7 linked regions of the Homo sapiens genome follow. The protein of the gene in region 7 purifies or fractionates together with the protein of the main gene of each other region. This does not show direct contact. Each region holds a gene or a part of one and is shown on either strand. Other genes may lie near its edges. The genes, in order: TRIM56, DDX50, STAU2, NOC3L, ZNF777, CHLSN and PRKRA.

Region 1 (4,076 bases), on a different chromosome or scaffold from region 7:
TATCAGGTCCCCAGGCCACTCAGTTACGGTGTTGGAGATTTTACCTCCAAATTATGCTCAATGCAACACTTCCCATCCATGCTTCTCATTTTCCAGTGTCCTTTGCTGCTCTCGCCCCCCTCACCTCTTTACGAAGAAAACTTAATATTTCCCTCCATCTTACAATGCCCTGTGGATTCTTACAGCTTCCCGAGAAGCCACTTGGCATCCCCATCTCTAGGGCGCCTGTGGGACTATCTTCTTGCAGCCAGGTGACGTTTCATTTCTGAAGGTTTCTATTGTTTTGCCCCCTGGGTGGGCCACGTGGCTAGAATCATTTCACCAGCCAGGACCACTGCCCATGGCTCCCATGCAACTCCGGAGAGCTGCTGTTTCCACCCCAAGGTGTGCGATCCCCTACAGTACACGGTTCCCAGTTACCCCCTCCACATGCACAGAAGCGGGACACCCCGATCTCATCTCTCCCTCTTTTATCCCCCCCTTAGGAAACCAGGTTTTGCTCTGTCACTCAGGCTGGAGTGCAGTGGCACAATCAGAGCTCACTGCAGCCTTGAACTCCTGGGCTCGAGCAATCTTCTGCCTCAGCCTCCCGAGCAGCTGGGACTACGGGTGCATGCCACCACCTCTGGCTAATTTAAAAATTTTTTTGTAGAGATGGGGTCTTGCTATGTTGCCCAGCCTAGTCTTGAACTCCTGGCCTCAAGACATCCTCCCGCCTTGGCCACGCAAAGTGCTGAGATAACAGGAGTGACCACTGCACCTGGCTCAGTCTCATTTTTTTTTTTTTTTTTTGACGCGGAGCCCAGCCTTGGGAGGCAGATGCGAACCGTGTCCACAGTGCCCCCTACTGGAGATTCCCCACAAGCCGAGGTTTTGGAGGTGGGAAAGCTTTGGAGAGTCATACCAGTCTCATCCTTGTCTAGATAGTAATTCACTTCACAGACATTCACTGAGCACCTACTATGAGGTATCACAGTGCTGGCTCTGCAGACAGAGCTGCAATGAAGACAGACACCGTTCCCTGCCCCCCTCCCCCCGCCCCCATGTAGCTGATCCCTATTCTAGTTGGTCCTGTAGAAACTCCACTTGGTTTCCAGTTGGTCTGAGTTATTTGGTGAACTCAACAAAACTTCCCCCGCCTTCCAGACACTCCACGATAATTCGATCACCTGGCAGGGGGGACCCCGACCTTTGCAAACCTTCCCAGAGCGGTTCCTTGGACTGCCACCCTGCCCCAATGGCCCTGCCTCCTGGCTGAGCCCCGGCCGGGTGGGATCCTCCTCCCTGGCTCCTGCCTCTTCTTTCATAGGACAATCTCATTCGTTCTGACACCTTCATTCTCAAACCCAGTAGTTATTGAGTATTACTTATAAAGGTGTATTTCCTTGAAGCAAATAATCAAGCATGTATGTTATGTAATGGATAATAAAAACTGAAGTAGAAATGTACACGTATGAATAATAGCACAAAATAATGAAAAACAAACAAAAAACAAAACAAAAAAAACCCCAATCTCCCAAATTAATGACTATTTACAAATTCCGAACCTATTTCTACTCAGTAATTATTTAGACAGATGTTTTCCTTGTTACTATCACTATTTGATCATAATTCCTGATTCTCCGTTTTTGAGGATTATGACTGTATCACGTAACTATTTCTTCTCAATAGTTTTCATAGTTGTCATACACAAAGAAAGGCTCATTCCCCTAATAAACCACAATCTAGTTAGCTGTCACCCTGCAGCCGAACAGTTTCCAGTTCTTGCCTGTAATATACAGAGCAGCCTCAAATGTCTGTATGCAAATATTTTTTCTCTTACATTATTTTCCCAGAATGTATTCCCCAAAGTGAGACAACTGATTCTTATAATCATTTTTGTCATTCTTGCAAAGTCTAGCCAAATTATTCTCCAGGATCATTTTTATAGTGCCAGGAGTCTATTTCTCCGCAAGATTTCTCACCCATTTATTTAACATTTATTTTTGACCACTGCAAGTGGATTTAATTATTTATTTATTATTTTTTTGAGACAGAGTCTCACTGTGACACCCAGGCTGGAGTGCAATGGGGTGAACTCGGCTCGCTGCACCCTCTGCCTCCCAGGTTCAAGCGAGTCTCCTGCCTCAGACTCCCCAGTAGCTGGGATTACAGGCATGCGCCACCACACCCGGGTAATTTTTGTATTTTTAGTAGAGATGGGGTTTCACCGTAGTGGCCAGGCTGGTCTCAAACTCCTGACCTCAGGTGATCCACCCACCTCAGCCTCCCAAAGTGCTGGGATTACAGGTGTGAGCCACCGCGTCCAGCCTTTCTTTTTTTTTTTTTTAATTATTATTATTTTTTATTTTACTAGTCCTTGCCTGCATACATTTCCTCCAGGGTACAGAGCTTATGTGGTTCTTTGACCAAATACTGTTCTAGTCATTGCATGTATTAGAGACCAAGGCTTTCCTCGTCAAATCAATTCTGCATGGTTTTCCCATCTTCTTGGTTTTCTTTTTTTTTTTTTTTTTTTAATTTTTTATTGATCATTCTTGGGTGTTTCTCGCAGAGGGGGATTTGGCAGGGTCATAGGACAATAGTGGAGGGAAGGTCAGCAGATAAACAAGTGAACAAAGGTCTCTGGTTTTCCTAGGCAGACGACCCTGCGGCCTTCCGCAGTGTTTGTGTCCCTGGGTACTTGAGATTAGGGAGTGGTGATGACTCTTAAGGAGCATGCTGCCTTCAAGCATCTGTTTAACAAAGCACATCTTGCACCGCCCTTAATCCATTTAACCCTGAGTGGACACAGCACATATTTCAGAGAGCACGGGGTTGGGGGTAAGGTCTTAGATTAACAGCATCCCAAGGCAGAAGAATTTTTCTTAGTACAGAACAAAATGAAGTCTCCCATGTCTACTTCTTTCTACACAGACACGGCAACAATCTGATTTCTCTATCTTTTCCCCACCTTTCCCCCTTTTCTATTCCACAAAACCGCCATCGTCATCATGGCCCGTTCTCAATGAGCTGTTGGGTACACCTCCCAGACGGGGTGGTGGCCGGGCAGAGGGGCTCCTCACCTCCCAGACGGGGCGGCCGGGCAGAGGCGACCCCCCACCTCCCGGACGGGACAGCGGCCGGGCGGAGGCGCCCCCCACCTCGCTCCCGGGCGGGGCGGCTGGCCGGGCGGGGACTGATCCCCCACCTCCCTCCCGGAAGGCGCGGCTGGCCGGGCGGGGGCTGACCCCCCACCTCCCTCCCGGACGGCGCGGCTGGCCGGGAGGGGGCTGACCCCCCACCTCCCTCCCGGACGGGGCGGCTGCCGGGCGGAGGGGCTCCTCACTTCTCAGACGGGGCGGCTGCCAGGCGGAGGGGCTCCTCACTTCTCAGACGGGGCGGCTGGGCAGAGACGCTCCTCACCTCCCAGACTGGGTCGCGGCCGGGCAGAGGCGCTCCTCACATCCCAGACGGGGCGGCGGGGCTGAGGTGCTCCCCACATCTCAGATGATGGGCAGCCGGGCAGAGACACTCCTCACTTCCTAGATGGGATGGCGGCCAGGAAGAGGCGCTCCTCACTTCCCAGACTGGGCAGCCGGGCAGAGGGGCTCCTCACATCCCAGACAATGGGCGGCCAGGCAGAGACACTCCGCACTTCCCAGAGGGGGTGGCGGCCGGGCAGAGGCTGTAATCTCGGCACTTTGGGAGGCCAAGGCGGGCGGCTGGGAGGTGGAGGTTGTAGCTAGCCGAGATCACGACACTGCACTCCAGCCTGGGCAACATTGAGCACCGAGTGAACGAGACTCCGTCTGCAATCCCGGCACCTCCGGAGGCCGAGGCTGGCGGATCACTCGCGGTTAGGAGCTGGAGACCAGCCCGGCCAACACAGTGAAACCCCGTCTCCACCAAAAAAATACGAAAACCAGTCAGGCGTGGCGGCGCGCGCCTGCAATCGCAGGCACTCGGCAGGCTGAGGCAGGAGAATCAGGCAGGGAGGTTGCAGTGAGCCGAGATGGCAGCAGTACAGTCCAGCTTCGGCTCGGCATCAGAGGGAGACCGTGACCATGGAAAGAGAGGCAGAGGGAGACCGTGGG
Region 2 (3,500 bases), on a different chromosome or scaffold from region 7:
TGTATACTTTAAAATGGTTAGTTTTAGTTATGTGAATTTTACCTCAATTTAAAAAACTGTAAATATGGCACTCTAGTTAAAGATATATATAGGCAGGGCGCAGTGGCTCATGCCTGTAATCCCACCACTTTGGGAGGCCGAGACGGGTGGATCACCTGAGGTCAGGAGTTTGAACCAGCCTGGCCAACGTGGTGAAACGCCATCTCTACTAAAAATACAAAAATTAGCTGGGCATGGTGGCAGACGCCTGTAATCCCAGCTACTCAGGAGGCTGAGGCAGGAGAATCGCTTGAACCCCGGAGGCAGAGGTTGCAGTGAGCTGAGACTGCGCCACTGCACTCCAGCCTGGGCGACAAGAGTGAAATTCCATCTCAAAAAAAAAAAGATATGTATGTTAAAATACTTACGGGGAGGCCAGGTACAGTGGCTCACACCTGTAATCCCAGCACTTTGGGAGCCGGAGGCAGGTGGATCACGTGAGGTGAGGACTTCCAGACTAGCCTGGCCAACATGGCAAAACTACATCTCTACTAAAAACACAAAAATTAGCCGGACATGGTGGCGCATGCCTGTAGTCCCAGCCACTCAGGTGGCTAAGACAGGAGAATCTCTTGAACCTGGAAGGTGGAGGCTGCAATGAGCTGAGATCATGCCACACTGCACTGCAGCCGGGGCGACAGAGCAAGACTCTCAAAACAAAAACAAAAACACAACACGAACAAACAAGAAAACCCACCACATCTTTGAGTGGTGTTAACAGTAAAAAAATAAGGAAAAATAAAAACCACAGGGATGCAAATCAGCAAAACAGACTGTGGGAAACTCATAAGGCAAATGAGTTTTTTTGTTGTTTTTTGAGACGGAGTCTCACACTGTTGCCCAGGCTAGAGTTCAGTGGCACGATCTCAGCTCACTGCAACCTCCGCCTCCTGGTTCAAGCGATTCTTCTTTCTCAGCCTCCCAAGTAGCTGGGACTACAGGCACGTGCCACCATGCCTTGCTAATTTTTGTATTTTTAGTAGAGACAGGGTTTCACTATGTTGGTCAGGCTGGTCTCGAACTCCTGACCTCAGGTGATCTACCATCCTCGTCCTCCCAAAGTGCTGGGATTATAGGTGTGAGCCACTGCGCCTGGCCAACAAATGAGTTTTTTCAACAGAAAATTGCAAAGAAAAAAAAAGGAACTATAGATTATAAAATGTTTAAGACGCATATCAATCAGTAGCAACGTCAAGAATTGTATTTGGATCCAGATTCAAACAAACTATTTAAAAAAGACAGCAAGGGCAATGTGCACACTAGGTATTTAATGATATTAAAGAATTACTATGCCAGGCGCAGTGGCTCACGCCTGTAACCCCAGCACTTCGAGAGACCAAGGCAGGCGGATCACTTGAGGTCATGATTTCGAAACCAGCCTGGCCAACATGGCAAAACCCAGTCTCTACTAAAAATACAAAAAATTAGCCAGGTGTGGTGGTGGGCGCCTGTAATCCCAGCTACTCAGGAGGCTGAGGCAGGAGGAATCACTTGAACCAGGGAGGTGGAGGTTGCAGCGTGCTGAGATCACACCATTGCACTGCAGACTAGGCAACAAGAGTGAAATTCCATCTCAAAAAAAATTACTGTTTTTCTTCTACTGATAATGACTGTGGTTTTAAAGAGCCCTTAGTTATCATTTTGGAAATACATACAATTACTTGAAGATAAAATGATGACTGGGATTGTTTCAAATGCAGGGGTGAAGAAAAGATCATTGTTAAAGACTGGTAATAGGTAATGGGTATATCATGTTCTTTATACTATTCAATCTTTCTATTCAATTTACTATTCAATTTTATATGTTTGAAAATGTTCTTATCAACTGTTTTTTACTATACATTTTACATTCTTACTGCAAAACTTTCAACCATTACAAAATAAAAAAGCTTCTTTTTTCTTATTCTTTTTTTTTTTTTTTTGAGACAGAGTCTCAATCTGTTGTCCAGGCTGGAGTGCAGTGGCGCAATCTCAGCTCACCGCAACTATCACCTCCTGGGTTCAAGCAATTCTCCTGCCTCAGCCTGCCGAGTAGTTGGGACTACAGGCGTGCGCAACTATGCCCAGCCAATTTTTGTATTTTTAGTAGAGAAAGGGTTTCATTATGTTGGCCAGGCTGGTCTCGAACTCCTGACCTCGTGATTCACCCGCCTCGGCCTCCCAGAGTGCTGGGATTACAGGCATGAGCTACCACGCCCGGCCCACAAAGCTTCTTTTTACCATCCAGCATGCCCCTTCCCAGAAGTAATCATTATCTGATGTTTATTCTTTCAACCTGTGTTTGTATATTTACATAAATGCCTAAGGAATCCATTTAGCACTATTTATTTTTTAAAATAGTGTAATTTTTGTATACATCATTGTATAATTTGGTTTTTATCACTGATTGTTTTTAACCACTGCATTACATTCTGCAGATACTACTATTCACTTAGTCACCTAGTCTTTCCTACATACACATATATATGCATCTATTAAATAGAAAGATGACATGTTACCTAGTTGCCTGTCATAAATACGGTAAATATTACCTTTAGTTCTTTTTTCTTTTTTTTTTTTTTGAGATGTTGTCTCACTCTGTCTCCAGACTGGAGTGCAGTGGCACGATCTTGGCTCACTGCAACCTCCGCCTCCCGGGTTCAAGCAATTCTCCTGCCTTAGCCTCCTAAGTAGCTGGGATTACAGGTGCGGGTCACCACACCCAGCTAGTTTTTGTATTTTTAATAGAGACGAGGTATCGCCATGTTGGCCAGGATGGTCTCGATCTCCTGACCTCGTGATCTGCCCGCCTCAGCCTCCCAAAGTGTTCAGAATACAGGCGTGAGCCACCGCACCCAGCCTTTTTTTTCTTTTATTTTTTTTTGAGACAGAGTCTCGCTCTGTCACCCAAGCTGGAGTGCAGTGGCGCGATCTTGGCTCACTGCAAGCTTCACCTCCCGGATTCACGCCATTCTCCTGCCTCAGCCTCCCGAGTAGCTGGAACTACAGGCGCCCGCCACCATGACCGGCTAATTTTTTGTATTTTTAGTAAAAATGGAGTTTCACCGTGTTAGCCAGGATGGTCTCGATCTCCTGACCTCATTATCCGCCTGCCTCAGCCTCCCAAAATGCTGGGATTACAGGCGTAAGCCACCACGCCCGGCCCTAATTCTTTTTTTAAACATACCATTGGTTTAACTTTCATGGAGTCAAAATTATAAACCTTTTCCTTTATGGATTCTTCTTCTGACTTCTGTGGTTTTTTTTTTTTTTTTTGAGACAGGGTCTCCCTCTGTCACCCAGGCTGGAGTACGGTGGCGCAATCTCAGCTTACTGCAACCTCCACCTCCTGGGTTCAAGTGATTCTCATGCCTCAGCCTCCCAAATAGCTGGGACTACAGGGGCCCGCCACCAGGCCGGCTAATTTTTCTATTTTTAGTAGAGACAGAGTTTCACCATATTGGCCAGGCTGGTCTCACACT
Region 3 (4,076 bases), on a different chromosome or scaffold from region 7:
TACAGGTGTGTGTTATGTTTGCATATCCCTTGGACTTTGGCCTGCATATCAAAGTCTAAGGACACCAGACACAACAGGTCAGTTTGCATGAACTGGGGCTGCCCACTGGAATAACAAACCTGAGTGTTAATGTCACTAAAGGAAGACCAAGCCTTCAAGAGAGTTCTAACACATACTTAAGTCTTTCCAAGGTCCTTGGAAGGTAGTAGAGGTCAAATTCAAGAGAGCTTTTTAAGAATTTTTAAGATTTTAATGGCAAATCAGAGCAGTATCTGCTGACCAAACCCACAAATGTGTTTTGCTCATTGTAGTCTAAGTAATTTATTATGGTTTTATACATTTGTTTAATAGCCTACATGAACATTTGGTCTCAGAGGCAACACAGTAAGTTATGTTTCAATGACAAATTAAAAATAAGGGAAAACACACAGTTGGGCCCTCCATATCCATGGGCTATGCATCCAAATATCAAAAATATTAAAAAAGAATTGAAAAAAAACCACAAAAAAGCAATATGGTATAACCATTATTTATATAGCATTTACATTATATTAGGTATTATAAGGCATCTAGACATGATTTAAAGTATAAGGGAGGATGTGTGTAGGTTATATGTAAATACTACAACATTTTATATAAGGGACTTGAGCGTCCATGAACTTTGGTATCTTTGGGGGTCCTAGAACCAATCCTTCCTGCAGATACCAAGAGACAACTATATTCCTAAATGTGGGTGTGTATGTACATGCATTATTTCTTTCTCCATATTCTCCTAAGAGGAATTTACAAAATTGTACTTGTATTGATCTCCTAACAAAAATGAATACCTTATTCTAAAAAAAAAAAAAAAGCTGCTGCAAATAGCCACCTTGATGATAACTATATGGATTGGAAAACATGAGGTATAGGAGAGATAAGAATAAATAGGTGAAAGGTTGATTCTCAGATTCTCAGGGAGACCAGCCACCACCCCCCCACTTCCACCAGCCCCATCCCAATATAACCTATACTAAGTCATATTGTTAAAAAATAAATACTTAAAAGAAGCCTGTGGCTATAAAAACCTGCTATCATCATATTAAACTCCACAAAAGGAGGCATATGAGTTGAAATGTATTCAGCGTGAATTATATTTGAAAAGGAAGATTTTAATTTAAGTGGACAATCTCATCTTGCTGGAAATGGCATGATTATGATCAATAATGAAATGCCCCTCCATAAAACACTCCCTGATTTTGGACAATAAACTAATTATAGTTTAACTAAAACACCAACTAAGTGTTTCTTTATATTATTTATGTGAGGGAAAAAACCTAGTTTGTTACACTATACTCGGAAGGTTTCACAAACAACACTGTTACAGTGGATGATGCTCACAGGAGAGGCACAGAATAGCAAACTGAAATGAAATCCATCTAGAAGGGACGATTTGCTAAAATAATCCACTTTCATTTTCAACCTAATTTTTAATGACTAGTTTAAACAAAGAAACCACTTATATTTATAGATTTCTAATATAATTAGCATAGAAAAGCATATTAAAGATGTGAAAACTTAAAATAATGCAAAGTACAACATGAAACAAATTCTTTCACTTCAGCTCAAATGCACAGCATTTCAAGAGTGTCTTTTGCATAATAAGTTTCTTTAAAAAGCTGAATGATTTTGAAACATTTTGCCATTATAGTAAAAGTGTACACAACAAGGAACCCTGAAACACTATGGTAGGACTACAACTTTGAATGAGTTCTTATAAAATGTGTAGAAGTTACAGAAGCATACGATTAGGCTGAACAACAAAGTCTGAAGTTCACAGAACTACTGAATAAAACATTTAAAAGAATATAAATAAAACGTATTAATACTTGATAAAACTTGAAAGAAATAAACATTCATTTCTGACAGAGATCCAAAAGGTTCGATTCTAAAATACGATAAAAACTTTAGGTGAGACCAAACAAGAATAACAGAACTGCTGAGAATGTGTAAGTGTTCGGTCACATTCTGCTCTCTTAAGTCAGTTTTATTAATAACTTTAATTGTATAATAATTTTACCTATTTTGTAGGTTTAAAAGAATTTGAGCTTGGATACCTACATTCAGTTGATCAAAGTAGCTTTTTGTAATTTATAAATTCAAATTAAAGACTGGGTGATGAAACAAAATTAAAAGTTAAAACAACTTTGTTTTCAATACACTCATATATTTTTACTTTGTAATACAATATAGCTGTCACATACAATGGCTCTAGTAGGCTTAAATCAAATTGCAATGGGCAAGGAAAGCCAAAGAAGGGTTTACACAATATTCAATAAGCAACAGTATCTGTTCAGTGTGCAATAAAATAAAAAAGTTCTAACCTAGAAACACAGAAAAAGAATTTATTGTTTTTAAGTTTCAGAAATAAAAGTAACAGAATAGTGTATAATCTGTAACAAGCTGGTCCTGTAATTTCTAAACTACAGTCCAATTAAAACATTTAAGTAATAGAAACAATCTACATGTTTTTCTACCAGGTAAATATACCTGAGAGGGTTACCTATAAAGAAATAGGCTTTAAAACTTTTAACCACAAAGAACCTTCTGCTGCGACATTATGAAGATGGGCTATGCATGTGGCCAGACTAAGTCATTTCCCGGAGATTCTGCTCACTGCTTAGCTGCAGGTAGTGGTCCATCAATGACAGAGTATTTTACATCAATACCAGCTCATTCAACCAAAGAAGCACAGTAATATTTTAAAATCACCTGTTTATATTCATTAGTATGTAAAAATCACAATACACAGATTTGGAAACATATAACGTGTCCATAAAAAAGAGTATATTATGTAAGCATAAGCTTTTTAAAAAGGCCTTAGCAATGCAATAATGAGGGAAGCAGACTCTACATGTTGACTACAGTGAAGATATGTTAAAATTATAATTATTGTCATTGCCAAGAGCTTAGAAATAAAAACAAATTTAAAAAATTAAGACATTCTGGTAGCAAAATTACAGCTACTGTAACAACAGCTCCAAGCAAAAAATCAATTCAGAGCTTGAATGCAATTTGTGCTTTGTTTCTATAAGAATGCAGTGTTACTCTCAGACATTTCTAAATGATTAGATTCATAAATAAGCAGTTAATTTCTTTTCATCACAATTTATTTCTAATTCATCCTACGGAGATTATAGATAGAACTAAAAATTACTTAGCTTTTTTCCAGTACTTTATATAAATTGAGATCTTTTTTAAACAGTGATTTATTGTGTTTCTTAAGGTAAAACAACAAAAACAAATTCTAAAATTGTAACTTTAAATTAAGTGGTTAAAATTTCAGATGACAGAGCCGATAACTGGTAACAGCTTCTTGAAGTTCATATTAAGAGTCCAATTAGAAACACTAACAACTACCTGGCAATAGTTTGAAAGAATCAGAAGGGTTCGGTGAAGTGAAAAAAAAATCCGAACATGCAAAATACCCCCCAAAACACATGACCTTCTTTTTCATTTTATAATCTAAACTTGTAAAATATTTATAAATACATGATCATTCTACACAATACAGATCTTCTAGAGCATTTCTAAAGGATATTACAGTTTTTGGTCTTAAGGAATAAAGACTAAGATGGAAAAGGAGATGAAAACAGTGAAATCTGAGGAAGCAATACACTCTCTACACACAAGCAAACTAGTTCATCCAGTCAAGTTAGCGGTTACAGTTCAGTACATGATTTTCAAGGCAACTAAGAAATCAAGACACAGATATTTCCCCTTCCTAGAGTTTACAATTCTTTCAAAAGCTCCAATGTATCCATAAAGGAGTGCTGATTTTTGTGGGGTTTTTTCCCAGAAGGAAACAAAGAATAAATAGGGGAAAAAAAGTTTCCATCCCTAAATTCACATACACAACAAGTTAAGTTAAACTATAAGCTAGTTTTAGACTACCCAGTGAAACAGAATTGTTGGTACTATCTGAGGCAGGTGCTACCCTCCCTAGTCAGTTCAAAACATGATCCAGTAAAACAAATACACATTGTTATGCCTCAAACAACTATAAAGCATTTCATTATTCTTCAAATATCATGTTTAAT
Region 4 (4,076 bases), on a different chromosome or scaffold from region 7:
TCTATACACATGCTCTTCCTAACAGAGCTATCCAACCTGCATTAGGATAGTATAATATAAATAGTTAAAATATGTATCTTCTTTTGTTCACAATTATTAAGTCTATTTTGATACTTCCATCATGTTTTCAAAATTAGACCCATTCAAAGATGAATATCCCCAGAGATTACTTTTGTTTTTACAAGCAACTTGATCACTCTAATAAACTGTTTAGAAATGTTCTGAGATGTGATGATAACAATAATAGTGATGATGGTGGTGGTACTAAAACTAAGGTTTATAAAGCCTGCCAAGTGTTTTATATGCATCATCTCATTTAACCTGCACGATTACCCTGCAAGGTAGGTACTATTATTAGCCCCGTTTATCAAAAAATAAATAAATAAATAAATAAAGTTTCCAAAGTTTCAGTAAATAAACAAGCGGCTGAAATTTCAACCCAAGTTTAAAATACAAACCAACAAAGAAACAAGATTCAATTAACAGAAACTCACTTTGCTGCCAACTTCACGTGAATGCATCTTTTCTGTTAAGGAAGGAATCTGTGTATCATAACTCTAAATTGATCTAAAAAGCCAAAGGATAAAAGCCAGCATGGCAAAAATATCTTTTCATCTATTGCTCTCCTTGCCAATCATTATCAGTTAAAACTGATTTAAGAAAACATTTCTTTGCAGTAACAGGAAAAGATAAAATTCTCTAAATGATGTATTTCAAAACTTTTATGTTTATGATTTAACTATGATTTTTACATGTGCCTATAAGTTTAATCTAAGATCAAATAAACAGAAAATTTAAATGAAACAAAAGGGGAAATAAGTCAAACCTTTCTCTGCATTCTTGATAGAGATTTTCTCTTTTCTTTGAAAGTCATAAATTTTTTTGGTTTATTAATGTCTTCTGTATCTTTTTTCACTTCTACTTCCTTGATTCTTAGGCATAAAAATGTTTTTAACATCTAATATTGGAAAAAAAACACAAATATACAGCTTAATATTTATATTGCCCTCAAAAACTTTACATAGAAAAGCATTTAACAGTGTTATTTCCCTCGTTCATGAAAAAACCTTCAAACATCTTTTATAACATTTTACACCAACTTCTTTTATCTGTATGCTATATTAATAACTTGTGTCTATGGAAGGACGGGAGCAAACATACAAAACGGACGCTAGCAAATACTAACTAAATATACAAAACTTTCTTTGCAGTTTAATGAGTATAAGGAAGAGAGAACACATGCCAACAGGATGACAAAGAGAAAACAGGCCAGGAAAAGGTTTGGACCAGTATGGGAGAAGATACACAAATTGCTGGGCCCTATCCCCAGAGTTTCTGATTTAGTAGGTCTGAGTTGAGCCCCAGAATTTGCATTCTAATTCCCAGCTGATGCTGGTCTGGGGACAAAAATAAAAATTATTGCTTTATGCCATTCAAAAATTCAGAAACTAATTTGGAAACTGGTGTTTTGTGTGATACAGCAAACTTCGCATACTCAAACACTAAGAACAAAAGGGGTTTAAAATGCTACACTTTCTCTGGATGAAATCACCCTACCGACCTCCCGCAGGCACAGCAGCATTCCTGGAAAAAACCTTGAGAACTACAGGTTTGTATTATTTTGATGTTCCAATATGCACATTTGGAAGAAAGCTGAGTATTTGGGATTACACGGCTAAAAGCACAGAATGAAACAAGGAATAACTAAAGGCATAAAGAGTGAACCTGAAGTCATTCTAGGTATCAGAAAGACCAACTCTGAATATTTTGTAGGTACTGTATGTGCTCAAAATATCACCTACCAACGAAAAATAACTCCAAATCAAATGATGTAGTTTTTACTCTAGCATCACGAAAGTTAAAGGGTTTTCCTATGGCTGAGTTTCATGTTCAAGCCTTATCTGATTGCTCTACAATTCTAAGTAAAGATGCTAAATATGCTCTGTTACTTTCATTTAATGTTTATAATTTTAGCAATTCAACTGAAATCAGATTTAAGAAAATAAAAAGGAATCTGATGCCAAAGGAAAACTGTGAAATCCAGAAATAAAATGGTAGAACAGCTTAACACCCAAAACTGTATTACTAAAGACAAATTAAAATATCTAAGACCTCAGTGAAGAAAACTATAAAATTTTACTTAAGAACATAAAAGAAGTCTTAAATAAATGGCAAGATATGATATTCTTGAATAGAAAAAAATCAATTCTGTAAATATTTTAATTCATCCAAACTAATCAATACATTGAATCGATTCTAATCAGATTCTCTGTGTGGACTATTTTGAGGGAAGGAAGTGAAAAATGGATTCTAAACTGCCTGGAGTAATATACTGAAATAAATAAGAATATTGTGGAGAAAAAAGAATAGTCATGTCTTTTATCAATTATACCCTTTCTGATTATTATTGTACCACATACCCAAATATACTATAGATATAACACAATAATTAAGCAGCATTTTATATCAGCAGAAAAAAAATGGTGATGAAATAACTGGCTGTCAGATTATATCAAATATATACATAATATAAATATTCAATATATATTAAACTATATAAAATATATATTCATTACATATATTAAACACAGATATTAAATCTGTACTCATACCACACATACAAAGATGTCAAATGGTTTAAATATTTAAATATAAAAATTAAAATTAAAAATCTCGGAGAGACTCCGTAAATTGGGATTGAGGAGACTATGTGCATAACAAAAAATATAGCTTCATATATAAGGCTGAACACAGAATTAAAAGGCAAAGTAAAAAAGAGAACAATCTGCAACCTATGTAACAAAGAGTTAATATTCTTTATGTAATGCAAGCTCCACAAACAGATAGTTTCGTTTCTTTTGTTACTATTTTATTCCCAGGACCTAAAAAAAGTGCCTGGCACATAGCAGTTATTTATTAAAATGAATATGTACTAAAAACTCATCACAAGTCATTAAGACAATTACTTTAAGAGAAAAACTGACAAATAATAAGCAGGTAAAAAAAGTTTATATATATATAAACTTTTCACCTACCTGACTAACAAAGATTAAATAGTAACATTCTGAGCAGGTAGGAGGGAACTGACACTCATATTCCTAGCAGGAACACAGTGATTAAATGTTTTTGAACAACAATTTGAGTTTGTAAATGTGATTACTGTTGGATCCAGCATCTACATTTTATAAATTTAATTCACAGAATATTCACACAATATGAAAAAATAATATGGCCAAAATGTTCTCAACACTGACTGTGGCAGCAAAAATCTAGAAAAAACTCAGCTGTTCAACAATTAGGGCACACAATGGAATACTCTGGTAGGCATTAGAAAGAATGGGATAACCCTATATGTAAGTTCACAATATAGAAAATGAAAACTGTTCCAGAACAGTTTTCAAAGTATAAGCCCATTTTTTATTTTAAAATATAAGCAAGTATATATGACTATATCTGCAAAGAAAAACATCTAGAAGGATAAATACCGAACTGTTAATAGTATCAAACATTTCAGGAGTTGACATGTTAAACACTTAAGGAGCTTGAATACTTTTTACTTCATACACTTATAAGGAATAAATTCCTCATAACAACTGAAAATCAACTTTGTAATTTAAAAACAAAATGCAAAGTAAAAAAAAAAAGGCTCACCTCTGGCCTAACTTCGTAATTTCTGCCCTTCACAAAACCAGAAATCACTTTAATTACACCAAGAGAAGCTTGGCCTAATTTATCTTGCTTAAAGAGTTTCTTCACAGCTTCACAACACATTTCAGATATCTGAAAAATAAAATGTCATACTTAACCAGTGTTTCTCAACCTTAGCACTACTGACGTTTTGGGTAACAGAATTCTTTGTTGTAGGGGGACTGTCCTAGGATGTTTAAAAGCCTCCATGGACTTTCTCCACTAGATGCCAGTAGTTAAGACTCTATCGCCACCACAGTCATCACAATCAAAAATGTATGCCGACATTGCCTAATGTTCCCTGGGGGACAAATTTGCTTCCTGTTGTGAACCACTACACCAAACTTATGTTCAGATAATTTTCTTCAGATAGACAGTGTTTAATAAAT
Region 5 (4,872 bases), on a different chromosome or scaffold from region 7:
CTGAGGCAGCTGGCCAGGCAGGTGTGTGCTCTGAATCCTTTTTACCTCTAAAATCCCGAGGCCTGGATATTATTTATACACAAAGACCTGTGGCAGGTTTGATAGGGTTGGGAGAGGTGGGGAGGAAGGCCTTGCCTTTAGAGATATTATCATTTAAGTTGGGGTCAGGGACCTCTTTGAAAACCTAATGAAAGTTTTGGGTTCTTGTCCTCAAAAAAGACAAAAGGGCACATACACAGAATTTTGCAGACATCTTCAAGGAGCTCACAGACCCCTAAACCTGCAGGCTCATCAACAGCTAAGCCACCTCTGAACTCTTCATTCCCTGTGAAGGAAGCGCTGGGGGCCCTGGAGGCTAGGCGCCTGGCTCTCAGGGAAAGTGACTGCCTAACGCAACACAATAGGCACATTACAGCCCTTGCCTTAGAGGGAGATTAGGGTATCTGCCTAGCACTAGAAAGAAGAAGAGGAAAAAATCCCTGGGGAGCAAGTTAGTCTCTCTGAGTAATGCAGAGGTTTAACTGAAACAATGAAACAAAACAAAACAAAACAAAACAAAACAAAACAAAACAAAACCCTCCAGTATAGTAAACAGAGCCAGCAGACCAAGGCATCTTTACCAGCTAGACAAATCAGAGCTCAAAGGAAAATACTATTTCTTTGCTATTATTAGACTGTCTCTCTCCATTTCCGGATTTGGAGGACTGTAGAGGGGCCACAGGAGGGTGTTCCCTCCCTCGCCTCCCAAATAAAAGCCCTTTGCTATAATTTAATCCATCCCGGTAAACCTGCCGCTTATCTTACCCTAAGCAGAAAGAAATGACCAAAGAGAGGGAGGGAGCTGTAAATATACCTAAAACGAATAAGCTCAAATTCTCAAATTCCTGGTAGGGGGTTGGAGGGAGAATTCTTCTGAACCATATTTGTAGGATTTAACGGTCCCTCCTTCCCCGACGGATCAGGAGTGGATGGATTCTCCAGGATTCATGCCACATTAGCAGAAGCATCCATAACCACAGTATCTGACTTATTAAGAAAGTCATGGCATTTTTTTGAATGACCCAGTATGGTTCACCCAGCATTATATACCATTCAAGGGCCCCGAAGGCCTGAGCCCAGAGTAAGGCATGTAAACATCTTCGTTTGATTTTATTTTCTCATGAGTTTTTTTTTGATTAAAGAATTGGGATGCTTTTTAGAAAGCTATATATCCTGCCTCCTTCCTGTGTACACAATAGGAAACTGAGGCTCAAAGGCACTGACTCCCATGCAGTAATCCTCTCACTAGCACGGCCAGGGCGTCTCAAAGAGCAGGTCTGCGGGAGGATCTGAGGGATGATTTTTTAAGAGTGTCTTCCTGAAGAGGAACATCAGCCCCCAACCCCTGAGAAGCTTACTCCCCAGACACCATCTGTCAGGGCACTCAAAGTTTAGCCTACGACCTTCCAGACGCAGAGGCCGGAGGCAGAGGCTGGAGCTCAGAGGGTCACCTGCTCCCACCGCGGAGATGCCCAGCTGGGCGCTGCCCGGCCTCCCCCGCCGCCCCCGACGGGCCGCGTCCGCTGCCAGGGCGGCCCAGCCCCTCACCCAGGGGCGGCCGCCGCCAGAGCCACCCCCTCCCCGTCCAGGCCCGCAGCCCTCTGGGCAGGCCTTTCTGGGGCTGCCGCACCGTGCCACGGATGCCTTGCTACGTGACCTTGGGGCCGGCAGGGCGGGTCGCCGCCAGGTGTCTGTGCCTCAGTGTCTCCGTTCTGCGAAATGGGAGAGCCGCGTCAGCGCCGCGCCCGGGCCGGGGAAGGCTCCGCGGGGCCGAGCTCTGCGGAAAACGTGCCGGCGGCTACCCCGACGGACGCAGCGCGGGCCCCGCAGGGAGCGAGCGCGCCTCCGGGCGCCCCACCTCGGGGCCGCGTGTGTGCCGGGCCGGGCGTGAGAGCAGCCTCCCTCGCACGGACGGCGGCGAGGCCCGTAGCCCTCCCCCACCGCCCGGGTCAAGACGCGCGGGCCCCCTCCAGGGCGCCCCCACCCCCCGCGCCAACGTCGTAGCGTTTCTGCCCCTTACCGAGATCCCAGGCCGGGCCGCCGAGCCCGGGACACGCAGGCCGTCCCCGGGGCCCCGAGGCCGCGCGTCCGTGCGCGCGCGGGCCGCCCTCACAGGAGCCGGGGCCGCCTCGGCCATGGCCCTGCGCTGTCCGGCCCGGGCCCCCGGAGTCGCCGCCGCTACTGCCGCCGCCGCTACTGCGCGCGGCCCCACGCAGGCCCGGCCGCCCGGCGCTCTCCGCAGGCGGCGCCGGCCCAGCCCTGTCTTCCCCGCCGGGGCTCGCGCGCGGCCGTCGGGCCCCGGCCTGCTCGGGGCGCGCGGGGCGAGCGGGCGCGGGGTCGCGGAGCCCGAGCGGCGGCGTCGGAGCTGGGCGCGCGGCTGTGCGGGCGGCCCGGCCGGCTGCGTCCCGGCGGCGAGCTGGGCCCCGGCCCTCAACGGCGGCCCCCGGCCCGCGCGCCGCCCCTCTGCGGCCGCGGCTGGGACCCCAGCTCCGGCCCCGGCCCCGGCTGCGAGCTGCGCTGCCGTCCCGGCGCCTCTTTAGCAGGGGAGCTGCACAGCAGCTGCCATGTTGCTACAAACTGCATCCTGGGAGGCATGTCCCTCTCAGGCCGTTTAAAGAGAAACACTCCGAGGCTCGTCGGAGGCTGCCGGAACCCAGACAGCTCCATCTACAGCCGGTAGGAGCGAACAGTGTCGAGCGAGCCGCCCGGCGGCGACGGACACGCCCTGAGCCCGGGCCAGCCCGTCGTGGAGCCCGGGCCGAACCGCCGGGGCCTCCCACCCTCCAGGACCCTCCGGCCTCTCACCTGGGGTCCTCGCCTGCCCAGGCACCCTCGGGCGAGGCCGGGAGGCGCGCGGGCGGAGGCGCAGTCGGAGCGCGCAGCCCAGGCGACGTGCTGGGGTCTGGAGGCGGCTTGATTGGCTCCGACAGCCTTCCTCCCGCCGATCCCCTGCGCCTCTCACACCCAGAACCCGGGGTCGTTCCCTTTCAAAACCTGCGCTCACAAAGGGATCTAAGAAACCCGTCACACCAGAGAAAGCCCGGAGTTCATGTGACCAGCTCAGTGCAGCCCGGGTTCCAGGGACGCGGGCTGTGCTTCCAAGGGGAGCCAGGGGGTTGGGTGCTTTTGTGAAATGCCCGAGTGTTGTTTTCGACATGAAAGGACCGAATTCCTAGAATCAGACCCTGCTGGGGCTGGAAGTGGCCAGACGGGTCATTTAGGAGGAAACTGAGGCCGAGTGGGCAGCGACTTGTTTACCCTCAGTCACAGTATGAATGAATGCTCTTTGTAACCATGAGAAGTCCCAAAAGAAATGCAGGAGCTTAGAGTTGAGAACTCCCCTTCCTGGACAGGTCCACTTAAACATGTATTAATTGAATACCTACGAGGTGGCGAGAACTGGGGATGAATTGAAAAGGAAAAAAAAAGAAGAAACTATAGGCAGGCGTCCTGGTTACTAGCGATGAAGCCCAACTGGAACTAACTTAAGTGAGGGAAGACGGCGGGGGGGAGCAGAGGACATTGTGTTTACCTAATGGAACCCCAGGAGTGGAGCTGGTCTTGGAAGGCAACAGGACTCAGTATGCTGGCAGCTCAGATAATGGAAAGTTATGGCCAGACGTGGTGGCTCATGCCTGTAATCCCAGCACTTTGGGAGGCTGAGGTGGGCAGATCACGAGGTCAAGAGATCGAGACCAACCTGGCTAACGTGATGAAACCCTGTCTCTACTAAAAATACCAAAATTAGCTGGACGTGGTGGCGCGGCCCTGTAGTCCCAGCTACTTGGGAGGCTGAGGCAGGAGAATCTCTTGAACCCGGGAGGCAGAGGTTGCAGTGAGCCGAGATCGCCCCACTGCACTCCAGCCTAGGGGACAGATCAAGACTCCGTCTCAAAAAACAAAAAAAAGGAAAGTTACAGATAGAGGTAAGGCCAGAGCTATGCATCCTGTCCCCTCCCTTCCCGGAGGCTAGAGTTCTCACCCAGGTCTTTATGCATTAACTAACATGTGTGCATTCGTAAACAATGCACACTACTGGTTTTGGTATTTTTACATTTTATGTGAATGATATTATCCAGTCCCTATCCTGTTGCAACTTGCTTTTTTCCATGGGTCATTTTGTTTTTGAGATACAGACATGTTTAAACAAGAATATCTGGTTCATTCATTTTACCCACAATATAGTATTTCATTGAATACATAAACTACAGTTTACGTTCCATTCCCCCTAGAGGAATGAGAACAAACCTGCTGCCAGCGACATCTGCATGCATGTCTCATTGTGCACTGCTAAAGTGCGTCTCTAGAGACGCCTAGACATGGGACTCTGGATGGCAAGAGCACCTTCATCTTTCCCCGGCTTCCCGAACTGCTCACTGAAGGGATGGTGCCTACTTACACACCCACTATCGTGTGATTTTCTCTTTCCCCATCCTGGCTCATACTTACTGATAATGGACTCAGAACGTTTGCCGACATGATGACTGTGAAATGGTAGCTCATTATTTTAATTTGTATTTGTATTTCCCTGATTAATGAAGTTGGACATCTTTTCATGTTTACTGACATTTGGTTTCTTCCTCTGTGAATTTCCTCTTCATATCATTTGCCAATGTTTCTGTTGTGAGATCTTTTTCTTATTGGCTTATAGGTATTTCATTAAAAATCTATTCTGGATCTTAATCATATCACCAAACATTTAATGTGATTACTAATACGATTGCATTTAAATCTACCATCTTACTAGTTATTTTCTGTGTGTTCCAGGTGTTCAGTGATACCTCTCTCTCTCTCTCTCTCTCTCCCCAACTGCCTGCTTTGAGGTTGAGGTTT
Region 6 (4,076 bases), on a different chromosome or scaffold from region 7:
CGCCCCCTCCAGCTGCACACCCTCCCGGGGCCCGCCTGTGTCATCCCAAGATAGCTGAGGTCGCTCACGTCGTGGTCACAGCCTTGGGGAATTGCCTGGTCCAGGACAGTGAGCGCGAGCATAGGGCGGCCGATGGCACGGAGTGGAGCCGGCACCCCCAAGGCAGCGAGCGCGAGCACGGGGCAGCCGATGGCGCAGAGTGGAGCCGGGCACCCCCAAGGCCCCTGGCTCTCCGGGCGCAGCACCCTCACTCCAGCTGCCCCTGCGTCTTCTGTTGAGGCCCAGCACAGAAAGCAGGAGTTTGGAAAAGTTAAAGGTGCACCGGCCAGTGTCAGGCACAGCCCAGGGCAGTGGGTGGCACTCCTGAGCTTCCCACCTCGTGGCCACAGTGGCTCCCTCGGGGACACGGGAATTGGGCTGTGACTCCTGCCAGGTCGGGAGCGCTGGTGGCCAGAAGCAAGAGTGGGTGTGAAGGAAGCTGTTTCCGCAGCATCCAGGCTGGTGCCTGACACAAGAAGCAGCCCTGCACCGGGCGCTCAGGAAGCCTGCGGGAAACAGCTGGGCCTGCGGGTCCCCGGCTTGGCCCCGATATGGGACGGCCTGGGTTCCCCTCGCCATCCACCCCAGGCCAGCGCCCACGTTGCTGTTGCCCACAGCCTTGGCCCCGTCCTCACCACTCTGGCCACCAACCTGGGACCCTACCACAGGGCCCTGCCCACCTGCTCAGGGCCTGTCCGGGTGCCCCACGCATGTGGGCTGACAGACCCTCGGCCACCGCGGCGGCCCCTGTGCAGCCCTAACAGTGTTATGGACTTTGGCCCGTGTGATCAGCCGTGGACTGCGTGGCCCATGGAGTGGGGGCCGAGGCTGGGCCTGTGCCAGGAGGGTTTTTACCTTTCAGGGCCAGTTGTTGTGCCTGCCCCGTTGGCGGCTGTGGGCGGCTGTGGGCCTAGGAGGTGAGCATGGAGCTGGTTGGAGCCGGTCAGTCACCAGGCTCCCCTGGGGGTGTCCACATCCCCACCATGAAAATCTTGCTCCCCAGAGCCCTGCGTGCCTGGCCTGGTGGGTCTCAGAGCTTCCTGCCTGTGTGTGTGGGCGGCCCAGGCCTTCCCACCGGGACTCTTCAGCCTCTCTGTGCCAGGCATCTGCCAGGGACGGTGCTCCTCGTCCCCCAGGCCCTGTCTCTTGCTGCGGACCCCTGGCAGGCTCTAGGGGTGTGGCTGTGGGTGTGTTGGCGTGTGTGTATGGTGTTTGTGGGTGTCTGTGGGCGTGTGTGGGTATCTGTGGGTGTCTGGGTGTGTGGGCATCTGTGGGTGTCTCTGGGTGTGTTTGGGTATCTGGGTGTTTGTGGGTGTCTGGGTGTGTATCTGGGTGTGGGCGTGTGTGGCTGTGGGTATGTTGGGATGGTGTGTGGATGTGTTTGGGTGTGTTTGGGTATCTGGGTGTTTGTGGGTGTCTGCAGGTGTCTGGGTGTGGGTGTGTCAGGGTGTCTGGGCGTGTGAAGGTGTGTCTGGGTGTGGGTGTGTCTGGGTGTCTGTGGGCGTGTTTGGGTGTGTGGGTGTTTCTGGGTGTCTGTGGGTGTTTGGGTATCTGTGGGTGTCTGGGTGTCTGTGGATTTGTTGGATGTGTGTGGGTGTCGGTGTGTGTGGTTGTATGTGGGTGTGTGGCATGTGGGGGTGTCTGGGCGTGTGGGTGTTGGTCTATGTGTGGGTATCTGGGTGTGGGTGTGTTGGGTATGGGTGGGTGGGTATGTGGGTGTCTGTGGGTGTGGGTATGTGTCCGTGTCTGTGGGTGTGGGTGGGTGAGTGTGGGTGTATGGTGGGTGTGGGTGGGTGTGGGTCGGTGTGGGTACATGGGTGAGGGTTGGGGGCTGTGTTTGGCTGTAGGGGTGAAGTCTGTGAATGTGTGTGTCTGTGTCGGGGGGGTGGGTTGCATATATATCTGTATGTAGGGGGGCTTGCCTCACTCTTCTTTGCTCTCCCTGGGGTGGGATGCGTAGGCGTGGGCTGTGCCCGGCCTCCCTTCCTGGAAGCTCCCGGTGGGCGCTGCCTGGTTGATTCCCACGCCCCTAGCTGTTTCCCTGGGCTCCTGGCCTTGCTCGGAGTCTACACTGATGTTCTGACTTTTCCAAAAAAGACGAAGCATGTGGACAGCGGCTGGGGTCACCTCATGGTCACCCCGTGGCCCGGCTGCCCCGGCTTTGACGCTTTGCACCGTCCTCTTCTTTTGTTAATGAGGGGAGGGTGGGCAAGACGGAGGGCCTGTGCTTTCCTGGCAAGATGTGGCTGGGGACACATTGTCACAGCGGGCCCTCTCCCTCCCTTGGGGGTCTTGGCCCCCTCCCTGTCCCCAGCCTGCAGCCCAGGGGGAGCCAGGCAGCCAGTGACCTGCCAGAAAGCAGCAGGCCCCAGGCACCGTCCTCGGGATTTGGGTCGGGTCTGGGGCCAGCACCTGGCCTGTGTGATAACAGACACCAGCACACCTTCAGCCCTCCCTGGGGGCCGGCCCGGATCTTCCCACACTGTGTGGGGTGGGGCAGGACCTCACAGAGCCTCGGGAGCCGGGAGTCTGTGGGAGGTGGACCACGGGGGTGGGGAAGGGGCCTCTGGGCAGTTAATCCTGGCACCTGGCGCCTGCCCGCAGGACTGGCCATCCTCATGTGACCTGTCTGTCTCTTCGTCGTAGCACAGGCTTAGCAGGATGGTGTCGGCTGGGGCCAGACCCAGTGCTTGGGGACAGAGCTTTTGGCCACTACTGAGGTGAGGGTGGGCTCGGGAAGCCCCAGGCAGCGCACCCGTCTCTGGATACCCTCCATCCCCGAAGCCTAATGTGTTCCTTGACTTTCAGGGCGAAGCTGTGCTCAGGCCCGGGCTGGACGCAGAGCCAGAGCTGTCCCCAGAGGAGCAGAGGGTCCTGGAAAGGAAGCTGAAAAAGGAACGGAAGAAAGAGGAGAGGCAGCGTCTGCGGGAGGCAGGCCTTGTGGCCCAGCACCCGCCTGCCAGGCGCTCGGGGGCCGAACTGGCCCTGGACTACCTCTGCAGGTGAGCGGCCCTGCCCCACGCGGTTCTGTCCCGGACGTGCGTCTCAACCCCTGCCTGAGGGGGTCGAAGCCTTCACTCGCACACACTGTGTGGAAGGTTCTAGAGCAGTGAGGTATGAGCGTTCATGCCAGGCCTGTGCTGCCGCCGCTGCCCTTTCTGTCTGAATGGCCCAGAGCCTTCAGGAACTTTCAGGGGCGGCAGCAGAGCCGCTGCCCGTGCAGGGGTTGCCTGGAACTGTGCTTTTAGAAATGGGTCTGATGGTGAACCTTGCCCCAGGTGTACGTCACCACAGGAAGAATCCACGGGCCTGGGTGCTGCTTGGACGTGGGGGTGAGGAGGAGGGAACTCGTGGTGGCCTTCAGCCCTCACTCACAGTGACAGGAGGCGCCACTGCCACCCAAGAGCGGGAAGACGGGGATTGTGGGGTGCTGGGCACAGGGTGCCATCTCCCTGGCTGCCTGCGGCGTGGCTGGGTGGATGGTGCCTGCGGCGTGGCTGGGTGGACGGTGCAGGATTGCAGGGGTCAGAGGCTTTGGCGTGGGCTCCACAGCCTTGCGGGCTGTGGCCACCTCCCCGGCGCTTACCAGCACAGGCTGCTGCCCGTTCCTGTCCGTCTCCCTGAGTGCTGACTGCACCTAGAATAAGGGGTGTCACGGCGTCCACGTGGCTGGCTTCCTCAGAGACAAGAACTGGGTCCCTGTGATGAAGTCACCCTGAGGGGCAGGGTGTCCTGTGGGGGCACTGGCCCTGCCTGGGAGGACAGGCTCCAGCCGCACCTCTGTGGGAGGCCCTCGGAGAGATGACCTCCTCGGAGAGATGACCCCCAGTGTGGCTGTGCAGCTAGCGGAATGAGCAGCGGGGCCTGCGTGGATGTGCACGCTGCGTGCACGTGCACGTGTACGTGTGTGCATGTGTGTACGTGTGTGCATGTGTATGTGTGTGTGTGTGCGTGTATGTGTGTTCGCATGGGTGTGTGTGCACGCATGTGTGTTCGCATGAGGGGGTGTGCGTGTGCATGTATGCGCATGTGTATAC
Region 7 (4,076 bases):
TTCCTTACCACCCATTCCCTGAAGACCTCTGTTCTATTTCTTAGACATACTGTTAAACATTTTTCAGTATCTTCCCATAAATGTTCTATGCATATGCAAGCACACACAATCTTTTAAAGCAAATGATAACTTACTCCTCTACATCTTGTTCATTTTTCTTTTATCAGTGCACATATATGCACTGTATTTACCTTACGGATCTCCAACTGTGAGCTTTAGGTTGTTTCTAGTTTCTTGCTTTTACTAGCAATAAACACTCTTTTGCACTTGAATGAGTTTCTCTGTAGAATTATTTCTAGAAGTGGAACTGCTAAGTCAAAGAACATGTACACTTTTAATTTTGATAAATACTTCCAAACTGATTTCTGAACCAATTTATACTCCTACCAACTGTCTTGGAGGGGGCTTGTTTTCTCATACCCTCACTAATACCAGCTATTATCAAATTTTGTAGTTTTTGCCAATCTAAAAGGTGAAAATATTTTATCTTGCATGAATAAAGTTGAATATTTTTTCTTTTTTTCCCTTAATCGTTTGCATTTCTTCTACTGGGTTGTCTTTTTAACTGATGCATAAGAGCTTTTTAAATTTTCTCTTTTTTAAGAGTTAGGATCTTGCTGTGTGGCTTAACTCTCAAACTCTTGGGCTCTAGCAGTCCTCCCACCTTAGCCTCCCGAGTAGCTGGGACTACAGGCATGTGCTGCTGTGTGCAGCAGATGTGTACAAAAGAGCTTTAAAGGTAGTACTGAAAACAGTTCCTTTATAGTTCTATGTTGAAAATAATTTCTTCCCACTTTTTTATTGTCTTAATTTACAGATTTTTTGCTGTGCAGTAGGTTTTATGTTGTCAAATGTATTAATCTTTTAACCTAGGTTTTAAGTTAAAATGCTTTCCCCATGCTAAGATTTTTAAAAAGAAAAACTCTTCCATGTTTCCTAATATTTATACTGTTTCAAATTTTTATGTTCAAATCTTTGATCCATCTGAAATTCACTTTGGTGTAAGGAATAAGGAAGCATTCTAAATAGATGTCATACACATCAACAAATATATATATATAGCCCCCACCCAAATGTGGATGTAAACTGTTTCTACATCATTATTGAATAATCCATCCTCTCACCCACTGATCTGAAATCTCACTGTTGCTATATACTATGGTCCTATGTGGATTAGCATCTACGCCTGGATTCTCTATTCGCTCCTCTGACTATTCCTGGCCCAGTAACTTGTCTGACAAGTTCAGTTTTACAGTATGTTTTGTTCTCTAGTAAAGCAGCACACCCTTGCTCTCCCAACTCTTCCTTTTCAGTTTTCTTGGCTATTCTTGAGGGTTTTTTTCCAGATAAACTTCAATAAACGTGTATCAAGGTCCAAAATGAACGCTGGTAGGTTTTTTTTTTTTTCGAGTTGGGGTCTCACTCTGTCGCCTAGGCTGGAGTGCAGTGGCGTGGATCTCTGCTCACTGCAAGCTCCGCCTCCCGGGTTCATGCCATTCTCCTGACTCAGCCTCCGGAGTAGCGGGGACTACAGGCGCACGCCACCAGGCCCGGCTAATTTTTTTTTTTGTATTTTTAGTAGAGACGGGGTTTCACCGCGTTAGCCAGAATGGTTTCTATCTCCTGACCTCATGATCCGCCCACCTCGGCCTCCCAAAGTGCTGGGATTACAGGCGTGAGCCACTGTGCCTGGCCAAACGCTGGTAGGTTTTGAGTGAGACCACATTACATTTAAATATATTTACAATGTTTTCTGCTCTATTCTTTAGTAGACTTTTCCTCACGTGGTCCTACGCATTTCTTTCTAAGTTTATTTTCATATAGCCTATCCCTGTCTACAATTTAAATTGGGATCTTCTATATTCTAGTTATTATTTGTAAATAAGAAAACTACTGACTTTTTTCTAGTATATTTTCTCAGAATAGGATTTTCTATTTTTCTATAAAATGACCAATGTTATGAAGCTTCGTAAGTTTTGTCAAAGTGATACACACATACAGCAAAAAATCAAATAGTACAGAAGTATAAAAGCAACAACCTCTGCCTTGCCCCTTCTCCACCTTCAGGTCCCCTTCCCAGATACAATAATTTTTAGCTTTTTATTTTTAATTATTCTGGTTGTTACCTACATAACTCTGGGCAATATGGAAAAGTTATTGATTTTGTATATTAATTTCATAATCAGTTACCTTGATGAATTCTCTTGTTTCTAGTAGTTTTTCTTTAGGGTTTTAAAGGGATACAATCATACCATTTGCAGTTAGTAACCATTTTATCTCCTCTTATTTCCAACTTCGTACTGTTTTCTCTTGTCTAATTTGTTTTTAATTGGTGGGTACTTCTAGAACAAGGTTAAATAAAAGTGGTGTTGGTGGGCGTCCTTATTTCTGATATTAATGGGAATGAGTATAATGTATAAATATATAACCATGATTTTGGTTTTTTTCCAAGTTTTTATCAGTAATGATTGCTGAGTTTTATCAAAATTTTTTTGGCATCCATTGAGAGGATTATATATTACTCTTTGACACATTAATGTGGTTAATTAAAGTAACCAACTTATTAACCTTGAAATAGTCTTAGTTAAATAAACCCTACTTGTCAATGCTATATCATTATTTTAATATTGTACTGAACATTTTACAAAGGTGTTTCACCATAAGGCATATTGATCTGTAATTTTTTTTTTTCTGTTGAACTTGCTATTGTCAGGTTTTGGTGTATTATGTTGGTTTTGGAGAATAAATTTAAAAGTTTCCTTTATGTTATCTATACATTGCCTGAAAAGAGTTTAAATAGCATTGAAAATGATCTCTTCTTTGAAGATTTAACCAATTTCACCTGTAAATCTGTCTGTGCTTTGTAATTTTGGTGATACTGTTGACTCAAATTCCAAAAGCAGTAAATGCAGTGTTTTATATTTTTCTATTAAAAATGTAAAATCAAATTATATTACTCATTTGTATATAGTCTTTGATTTTTTTCTAAAGAATGAGCCCTTATTTTATCATAAGCTCAGTGAAGAAGTTGCTACAGTTGTACTTTTTTATTTCCCACCTAATACACTACTCTCAGATAATGTACCACATGACACACCTATCTGTGAATATCAGAATCTGAAGTTATATATCATGTGTAGGCCAATCTCTTAAGCTCTGAATTTATTTGTTCAGCTACTCGATATATTCACTTAGCTATTCCATAAGCTATTCCATAAGCACTTCAAATTCAATATATTTAGTTCATTATCTGCTCCCCTCTTGCTATTGCCAAGTTTAAAATAGTAATTTCCTCCCTTTCCCTTGCTTCCCACATCCAATCAATTACCATGCCCCTTTACCTCAGTTTTCTAAATAACTTTAAAATCTACCCATCTCTCTCCATTTTCCCAGCCACTACCTTAGTTCAAGCTGTCATGTCTCACGTGTCTTCTGTAACAGCACTCTCGCAGGTCTCTTTGATCCTAATTTCACTCACTTACCATAATGCAGCCAAGTGATTTCCTTGTAATGTATAGACTAGATCCTGTCCTTCCCAGATTAAAATTCTTTAATGACTTTGTACTACCCTTGGGATAAAGTTCACTTTCCTTATATAGGGGTCCCTTTAAGATTTAATCCCTCTTTACTTTGCTGGCCTCATTGAGACTCCCTCCCTCCAACACTATGTTCTACACACAACAAATCACTTAGGGCTCCTAGACTGCATACGATGTTTCACTCCTGGCCTTTGCACACGCTTTTTCTTCTCTCTGGAATTCTTTTCCCCCATTCTACAGGTCTTGGCTTAGACATTACTTCTTCCTGGAATCTGTCTCCAAACCTGTTTTTGTTGGATGCCTTCTTCTATGTTCCCACATCACACTCTGTAAGGACTAGCCTATAGAATTCCTTCCTTTCAGTAGTCTATAAACTCCTTAGAGGCAGGGACTGCTTATTCACTGCACCCCAGTACCCAACACAACACTTAGCACACAGTATGAGCTCACTAAATGTTTGCTAAGTGAATGAATGAACAAACAAAGGGATGGAAATGCGCTGTCACTTTGAAGGCAAAAATGGCACTACTGGCCTAT

What was found.
Region 1: the proteins of PRKRA (region 7) and TRIM56 purify together in Homo sapiens (affinity purification with mass spectrometry; one large-scale study listed by BioGRID and IntAct). This does not show direct contact.
Region 2: the proteins of PRKRA (region 7) and DDX50 purify together in Homo sapiens (affinity purification with mass spectrometry; 2 studies listed by BioGRID and IntAct, with this or other methods). This does not show direct contact.
Region 3: the proteins of PRKRA (region 7) and STAU2 purify together in Homo sapiens (affinity purification with mass spectrometry; 2 studies listed by BioGRID and IntAct, with this or other methods). This does not show direct contact.
Region 4: the proteins of PRKRA (region 7) and NOC3L purify together in Homo sapiens (affinity purification with mass spectrometry; 2 studies listed by BioGRID and IntAct, with this or other methods). This does not show direct contact.
Region 5: the proteins of PRKRA (region 7) and ZNF777 purify together in Homo sapiens (affinity purification with mass spectrometry; one large-scale study listed by BioGRID and IntAct). This does not show direct contact.
Region 6: the proteins of PRKRA (region 7) and CHLSN purify together in Homo sapiens (affinity purification with mass spectrometry; one large-scale study listed by BioGRID and IntAct). This does not show direct contact.

Annotation. Positions count from the first base shown.
Region 1 is NC_000007.14:101,091,783-101,095,858, reverse strand, and holds part of TRIM56 (E3 ubiquitin-protein ligase TRIM56), read right to left. Parts: 3' UTR 1-4,076.
Region 2 is NC_000010.11:68,914,815-68,918,314, reverse strand, and holds part of DDX50 (ATP-dependent RNA helicase DDX50), read right to left. Parts: intron 1-3,500. UniProt on the Homo sapiens protein: ATP-dependent RNA helicase that may play a role in various aspects of RNA metabolism including pre-mRNA splicing or ribosomal RNA production.
Region 3 is NC_000008.11:73,547,419-73,551,494, forward strand, and holds part of STAU2 (double-stranded RNA-binding protein Staufen homolog 2), read right to left. Parts: exon of another isoform or gene 2,183-4,076; intron 1-2,182. UniProt on the Homo sapiens protein: RNA-binding protein required for the microtubule-dependent transport of neuronal RNA from the cell body to the dendrite.
Region 4 is NC_000010.11:94,345,599-94,349,674, forward strand, and holds part of NOC3L (nucleolar complex protein 3 homolog), read right to left. Parts: intron 3,781-4,076; coding exon 3,652-3,780; intron 959-3,651; coding exon 827-958; intron 1-826. UniProt on the Homo sapiens protein: May be required for adipogenesis.
Region 5 is NC_000007.14:149,457,971-149,462,842, forward strand, and holds the start of ZNF777 (zinc finger protein 777), read right to left. Parts: upstream 3,093-4,872; 5' UTR 2,845-3,092; intron 2,619-2,844; exon of another isoform or gene 2,177-2,618; coding exon of another isoform or gene 2,060-2,176; intron 1-2,059. UniProt on the Homo sapiens protein: May be involved in transcriptional repression. Inhibits cell proliferation through CDKN1A/p21 induction by down-regulation of NIBAN1/FAM129A at low cell density.
Region 6 is NC_000007.14:1,008,915-1,012,990, reverse strand, and holds part of CHLSN (protein cholesin), read left to right. Parts: intron 1-2,690; exon of another isoform or gene 2,691-2,759; intron 2,760-2,847; coding exon 2,848-3,041; intron 3,042-4,076. UniProt on the Homo sapiens protein: Hormone secreted from the intestine in response to cholesterol, where it acts to inhibit cholesterol synthesis in the liver and VLDL secretion,leading to a reduction in circulating cholesterol levels. Acts through binding to its receptor, GPR146.
Region 7 is NC_000002.12:178,437,288-178,441,363, forward strand, and holds part of PRKRA (interferon-inducible double-stranded RNA-dependent protein kinase activator A), read right to left. Parts: intron 2,957-4,076; exon of another isoform or gene 1,580-2,956; intron 1-1,579. UniProt on the Homo sapiens protein: Activates EIF2AK2/PKR in the absence of double-stranded RNA (dsRNA), leading to phosphorylation of EIF2S1/EFI2-alpha and inhibition of translation and induction of apoptosis.